2 linked regions of the Homo sapiens genome follow. The protein of the gene in region 1 interacts with the protein of each later gene in a pairwise test. Each region holds a gene or a part of one and is shown in the gene's direction. Other genes may lie near its edges.

Evidence for each region.
Region 2: the proteins of C6orf58 (region 1) and LDLRAP1 interact in a two-hybrid assay, tested with the Homo sapiens proteins (one large-scale study listed by BioGRID and IntAct).

Annotation. Positions count from the first base shown.
Region 1 is NC_000006.12:127,589,427-127,592,326, forward strand, and holds the end of C6orf58 (protein LEG1 homolog precursor), read left to right. Parts: intron 1-660; coding exon 661-899; intron 900-2,116; coding exon 2,117-2,196; 3' UTR 2,197-2,394; downstream 2,395-2,900. UniProt on the Homo sapiens protein: May be involved in early liver development.
Region 2 is NC_000001.11:25,563,985-25,567,810, forward strand, and holds part of LDLRAP1 (low density lipoprotein receptor adapter protein 1), read left to right. Parts: intron 1-1,188; coding exon 1,189-1,223; intron 1,224-1,377; coding exon of another isoform or gene 1,378-1,432; exon of another isoform or gene 1,433-2,863; coding exon 2,864-3,008; 3' UTR 3,009-3,826. UniProt on the Homo sapiens protein: Adapter protein (clathrin-associated sorting protein (CLASP)) required for efficient endocytosis of the LDL receptor (LDLR) in polarized cells such as hepatocytes and lymphocytes, but not in non-polarized cells (fibroblasts).

The DNA of each region.
Region 1 (2,900 bases):
TTCTAAAACTACTGAATATAACTTTAATCTTTCCATTGTAATTATTTGTCCCCATTTCTTAGGAGAAACTAAACTTTCTCACCTATTATGGGGACAAATAGTTACAGAGGCTTTTCTAATAATTACAGAGTCTTTTCTAACAATTACAGAGGCTTTTTTTCTACCTGAGGCTTCCTGTGGTAGAAGAATGCCAATTATTTACAATTTAGATCTAGATATTATTTTTCTAGAAATCTCAATGTTTCTGGGATCCCTGGCTTTAAGAAATCAACAGTTTCACAAAGGATATTTGAGTCTAGCAAAAATTTTGCTTTAGACCTTTGATATTTATCTCTACATTGGCAAAGAGTATGATTTAAAAATGCCTTACTTTTGGTTATTAGGTGGTATTCAAGTATAATGTGCTGAATTAAAGAAGATAAAATGCAATGTAAAATGTAAACAATTAGTGAGATGATTCTTCCTAGATTTAGAATTTTAATGAGCCAACTTCACACCTCCTGAGGGATGGAATAAAGTCATCACAATATCAAGCCTATTTTCTAAATTATAAAATTATGAATTTAGTTTGTTGGCAAGAACCAATATTTTCTGAAGGCAATGAGCTTGAACTTCTGAGGTGACTAATTATAATTAAATACTTTTCCGTTTGTCTTTTAGATATGATTATTATTCTAAAGCAGAAGCGCATTTTGAGAGAAGTTGGGTACTGGCTGTGGATCATTTAGCTGCAGTCCTCTTTCCTACAACCTTGATTAGATCATATAAGTTCCAGAAGGGCATGCCACCACGAATTCTTCTTAATACTGATGTAGCCCCTTTCATCAGTGACTTTACTGCTTTTCAGAATGTAGTCCTGGTTCTTCTAAATATGCTTGACAATGTGGATAAATCTATAGGTAAGAACCTTAAAAGGATACTTTTAAAAATCAGTATTATGTTGAACAAATAGAGGAAGAAATAATAATTAAATCAGTGATATAAACATTACAGCACTCCAAAAATAAAGATTTCCCTGTGGGTATCCATTCTATTTCTTTAGCAATAATCACTCTTGATATATAGAACCATTTAATGAGCACACATTTTAATCTTCTTACTCATGGTCTGTCCTTTCATCTGGAGACCATGTTGAAACTTGAAGTTGGCAAACCAACTGAAACACTTTTGTTTTGTTCTACATACCGATATATATTCCTTATTTTGCTCATCAGATCATTTAAAAAAAAAAACTTTCTACTTTGCTCTTATATTTAAAGAAAATGAAGACATTTCAAAAGAAAACCTGCCATGATTAATGAAATTACTAGCAATTTGGCTTACTTGAGTTCCCTTGATCCAATACTATTAGTCATGGAAGAAGGGTTTTATTCTAGCCCTTCAAATGCTGGATCTTCTAGTGAGGTAAAAAAAACAGAGGGTTCTTTATCTACCAGTTTGAAAGTGACTATATCATTCCCATTTGCCATACATGAACTGAAGCATTGAGCCAAATTTAAAACGTTTTTCAAAGCAAAAACATCAAGTCTGAAAGATAAAAATGGAGTAAATTAAACATGAATAAATTAAACCTATGTTTAAAAAAAACCTCTGCATCAGTTAGAGTAACAAAAACATCCAAACACTTTATAGACTTCATACAATTGAAGTTTTTCCTTTGGTTCTAGTGCAGCATTCTCTGTCAGTAGGCAGCTTCCCTTCACACAATCAGTAGCAGACCAAGTCTTCTTCATTCTGTGAAAATTTTTCTTGGAGCTTTTTCCCAAAAATGAGTTGATCCAATTTATTCTGTTTAATAGATATATAGTGTTATTATTAGTTATTGCCAATAATATAACAATGACATTTTATATATATTTTTCTTGCATAATTTATTATTTTATCACCAAATTCATAGAAAGAACGTGAAGTAAAGTTGGTAAGTCAGGTATTGCCAAATGGTATTGCCAATAATTCTATGAATGACATGCCATGCTTACTTTTCTTTGTATAATTTATGATTTTACCATTAAATTAGTAGAAAGGAAATGAAATAAAATTATGAGCCATATATTGCCAAAAGGTACTTTAAAAAATTTGCAAGAGTTTACATGTAATCATTTTGTATCTTTTACAGGTTATCTTTGTACAGAAAAATCTAATGTATATAGAGATCATTCGGAATCTAGCTCTAGAAGTTATGGAAATAACTCCTGAAACATTTAACTTCAAACTTCAGGAAATGATTAATGAATTAAAAATGAAAAACTCGAACTTGACAATCAGTAATTTCAAAAAATTAATGTCATCATGACCATGTAGTTTATTCTTTCTGATATTTTTGATTTATGCTTATTTGTTAAGATCTTGTACATGTATTAAAAACTTAAATTAAATGCATTCAAGTTAAAATAATGATTATTTTGCTCATGATTTTAAAATTCATTAATGATTAAAATGTTTAAGATAAAAGGATATTGCATTATGCTACCAAAAAATAACTGAGAAATTAACAAACATATTAAACTTGTGTAGCTCTTTTGTTGTTATCCTATCATCAAATTTCATGACATTTAGACTAATATATATTGCTGATTTATAACCAAAATCCAGATCATTTTGAAATAAAATACTGACAGGCAGTTCAAATTTTTAAAATTCATAAAACTGACCTGGAAAGTAGAATACACTAACTCATGTGTCAGTTTTCTCTGTGTTTTTGCTGACCACAAGTTTACAGCAATTACATGATAGAGTTCCCCTCCTTTCACCCACACTTGATAATGAATTCATTATATATAAAATATATAATTAATAAGTGAGAATACACTGGCCAGGAGGTGGTGATTTCTAGAGCTGACACGAAGCTTTCATATGAAAGTTTTCCCGGGTCCTCATTCACATACTAAATCTACCCACTA
Region 2 (3,826 bases), on another chromosome or scaffold:
CAGGCTTGGCTCCCAGCACAGCTGTCTCCTCACAATGCTTGGCCTCTTGGCCTGAGCGTCCACGGCTCTGCCCACCACAAGACCAGCCAAAGGCGCCCTTGTTCTTGGTGTGGCAGAGCTCGCTCCTACCACCCCTCCCCCTCAGCCGCCTGAATGAGGACCCAGAGACTTGGGCAGTCACCAGCTTGGTCCCTGACTCCCTCAGGGACTCAGGGCAAGCCCCCTGACCTCTCTGTCTCAGCTTTTTCATCTCAGTAAGGGTGATGACCTCTGCCAACGGAATCTCCCCGAGGAACCTGAAATTTAATTTTAATTTTTCATTTGGAAATAATTTCAGACTGTGTTACAAAATTAGTACAGAGAATTCCTGTTCACCCGTCATCCAGATTCCCCAATTGTTAACATCTTGCATGACCACATTACACTGGTCAGAATCAGGAAACAAACACGATACTGTGCTGTTATATAATCTATAGAACTTACACATTTCTCCAGGTGCCCCTTCAGTGTCCTGTTTCTGGCCCAGGATCCATTGCAGAATCACATGTTAACTTGTCGTCTCTTTAATTTTTAAAAATCTGGGTACTGGGGGCTCCCCTGGTGTCCCTCGAGCCTGTTCTCTGCTGTTTGGGAACCACCCTTGCCACTTGCCCATCCTCACCAGAAGGCCATGGAGGGACCTCACCTGTCGCTTTTCTGCTGAGGCTGTGGGACTCCTGGCATCAGTTATCCCTCATGAACTTGGAATTTTGGCTTGGCTTTTGGAAGTAAATGAAGGCAAGAAAACTCCCTTCCCCACCCTCTTCCTTTTGGAATTTGAAAGCCATAGAAGTCATCAGGTCCAATGCCCTCCTCTTATTGAAGGAAAAGCTGAGTTTCAACGTGGAGCAGTGACTTGCCCAAGGTCTCACGGGCAGGTAGCATGGACCAGGGCACTGAACCCACCTGGGTCTCCAGACACCCTGGGACATGGCCTTTCTCCTCTCCCACGTCTCCAGCTTTGGGTCCTTGGGCTGAGATGCTGGCGATGCACCCAGGCAGGAGGCCTGCCTGAGGCCGTGCCTCCAGGCGCCCACCCTGAGCTTGTGTCCTGAGTCCCTGTAGCTTACCCAGGGCTGGGACAAGCCCCAGCTGTGAGCATGGGCTCCCCCAAACATAGTTCTTATCTCCTGCTTTGTTTTCCCCAAGGAGCTGGATGATGGCCTGGATGAAGCGTTTTCGAGGTAATGCTAGCTTCCTGTGCTGGGTAGGGGGCCTGGTGTGCGTGGGCTGGCCCTGCTGCCCTTTCTCCTGGGGACCTTTCCCCTGATTAAGAACACAAGCCACTCAGACCCCCTCCAGAGCAACAGTCCCATCCCTCCACTCAAATGCTTCCAGGGGCAGGGAGCTCACTGGGGAGGAAACCCCTTCCAGCGTTGTCCAGAGCTGTTAGAAAGTTCTTACTGTTGAGTCAAAAACTATTCCTGGTGGCTGCTCTGCCGCAGTCTGAGGTGAGCGAAACACACTGCAGCTCAAGTTGATTTCCTCCGACTTGAGGAGGCGTGGCCTTCAAAAATGGGCTTTTTTTTTTTTTTACAGGCTTTGCTCCCTCCACAGGTCTGTGTTTATGAACAGGGGAAGGGAGAAAGTGTTTAATGAAGCTCGTGAAGCGTTCCATAGCAGGGAAGGTCAGGCACAGTGAGGAGGTGTTTTGGTATAGCCTTTGGTGGCATTTCCCCGTTTTCCCAGGGGCCATCCTTGTGGCCCCCTGCAGCTTGGGGACATGCCACTGAGAAGGCTGTGGCTGAGGAGAGGCCTGGGCAGGTCAGGGTTCCGAGCCCTGGGTCCCCGTCTGTCAGGCCTCCCTTTCTCACTTGAGACCCTCAGCAGCCTCCTACAGCCCTCCCACATCAGGGGCTTTGTTTGGGGTTGGAGTCAGCGATTTTTGGTCCAGCGGGTGGGGACAGAGTCAGGGTCTTTGCCCTCCTGCCTCCTCCTTCCTCTTCCTTGCCTCCTTCTTGCCAGGGACTAGTGGAAACCCCTTGGTCCAGCCTGGGGCGAGGGCGACAGTGACACCTTCCCTGCCTCACTGGCTGACGACACCTGCCCTCTGAAGAAAATCTTTTGTTTGCTTTCTCCACATTATTTTGAGCATCATGTGCCCTTTATTAACAATTTTGAAAATCAGCAAAGCATTAAACAGAAAGTAACACCATCCTGTAATCCCACAGCCCAGAGTTTTGGGCTTAATTCATGCTAATCCTATACATATACATTATTTTGCATTGATCAGCTCATCGTATTTGCATTTTGGGATCCTGATTTTTCACTTAACAGCGATGTGTCAGAAGCATTGCTCCAGGCTGTTAAAAGCTCCTCGTAAACACCTCTTCCATTGACTGCCTAACATTCTCTTAAGGGAAGCTGCTATAATTTACTTGACTCTCCCCTATTCTTTTGGACATGTAGGTTGTCTCCCTTTGTAAATTTATTTTTCGAACAGCACGGTGTTGACACAGTTATAGCCAAAGAATCTTCCGTGTTCCCTCCCACAGCTTGTTCCCCACCCCACCCCCACCCCCGCTGCTCCCTTTACCAGCCCCTTCTCCTCTTTCCTGGGCATGTCCTGACTGAGCTGGGGCACAGAGTGGGTGCTCTGGCCTCTCCCGGGGGTGGGTGCACCGCTGGCTGCCCCTGACTTTTCTGAGCTGTTTGACTCTCAAGGGGAGGTGCTTTGATCTGAGGTTACTCCACCTCCCCTGCACCGGGGGCTTCCTTCTTGGGCCATGTGCCCTGCTGTTCCCCACTGGTGCCCCCTCGCGTCTGACCCTGGGGCGCGCCAGCCCTCACCCAGGCTCTCGGCTCACACAGCTCTGCCTTCCAGGCTTGCCCAGTCTCGGACAAACCCTCAGGTCCTGGACACTGGCCTGACAGCCCAGGACATGCATTACGCCCAGTGCCTCTCGCCTGTCGACTGGGACAAGCCTGACAGCAGCGGCACAGAGCAGGATGACCTCTTCAGCTTCTGAGGGCCCGGGGCCAGCCGGACACAAGCGGCCCTGACACGTGATGGACCAAAGCCACCTGCTGCGGGGGAGCCAGTTCTGGGGCCCGCCTGCCACCTCTCCCAGCCCTCAGCATTGTCAGCCTGAAGATCAGAGCTGCAGCCAGTCAGGCAGGGGAGAGATTTTTCTTTTAAGCCCTGCTCTTTCTCTGAGAACCAAAAGATGCCTTGAATATTTATTCAGTGACTTCTGGCTTATGCTCAGAAGCCAGTCTGCGTCAGGCACGTCTCCTGCTGCGTGACATGTGCAGTGCTGTAATCGGCTCCCGCTTGCTCTCCTGGAGCAAGCTCTGCCCTGGCTGTGGGTATCAGGACTGTGACCAAAGCATTTCTAGTCCCTTCTCTCTTTCTAAGGACCCAAATTTCCCTGGGGGCATCCTGCTTCCTGAAAGCTGTTGGATTTCAGTGATTTTTCCCCCCACCCCCCAGCACAGGAGAGCACCCACAGCCGCAGAAGGGGAATGTGTCCTCCTGCTCTGCTTCCTCAGGGCCCAGCAGGCGGGGGTTTGAGCCCTGGACCCCAGGCTCTTAGAGACTAAGGGGCAGCTCCTGACCAAAGACGATACAGCTTGGCACTTTAAAGCATTAACAGCAGGTGTGACCCTGAGGGCTCCTCCATGGTGCTGCATTGAGTCCAGCTTTCCTTCTGCCCTTCCTCCAGGAGAAGGGGCCCAAGGTCCCCGTGGATGGTCTCCACCTGTGCTTGGAACCAGTGTAACTGGCTGCTCCCTGCTCCCAGGGACTGACACGGGGATCATCTCTGTGACCGCCCTCCGTCGGGCC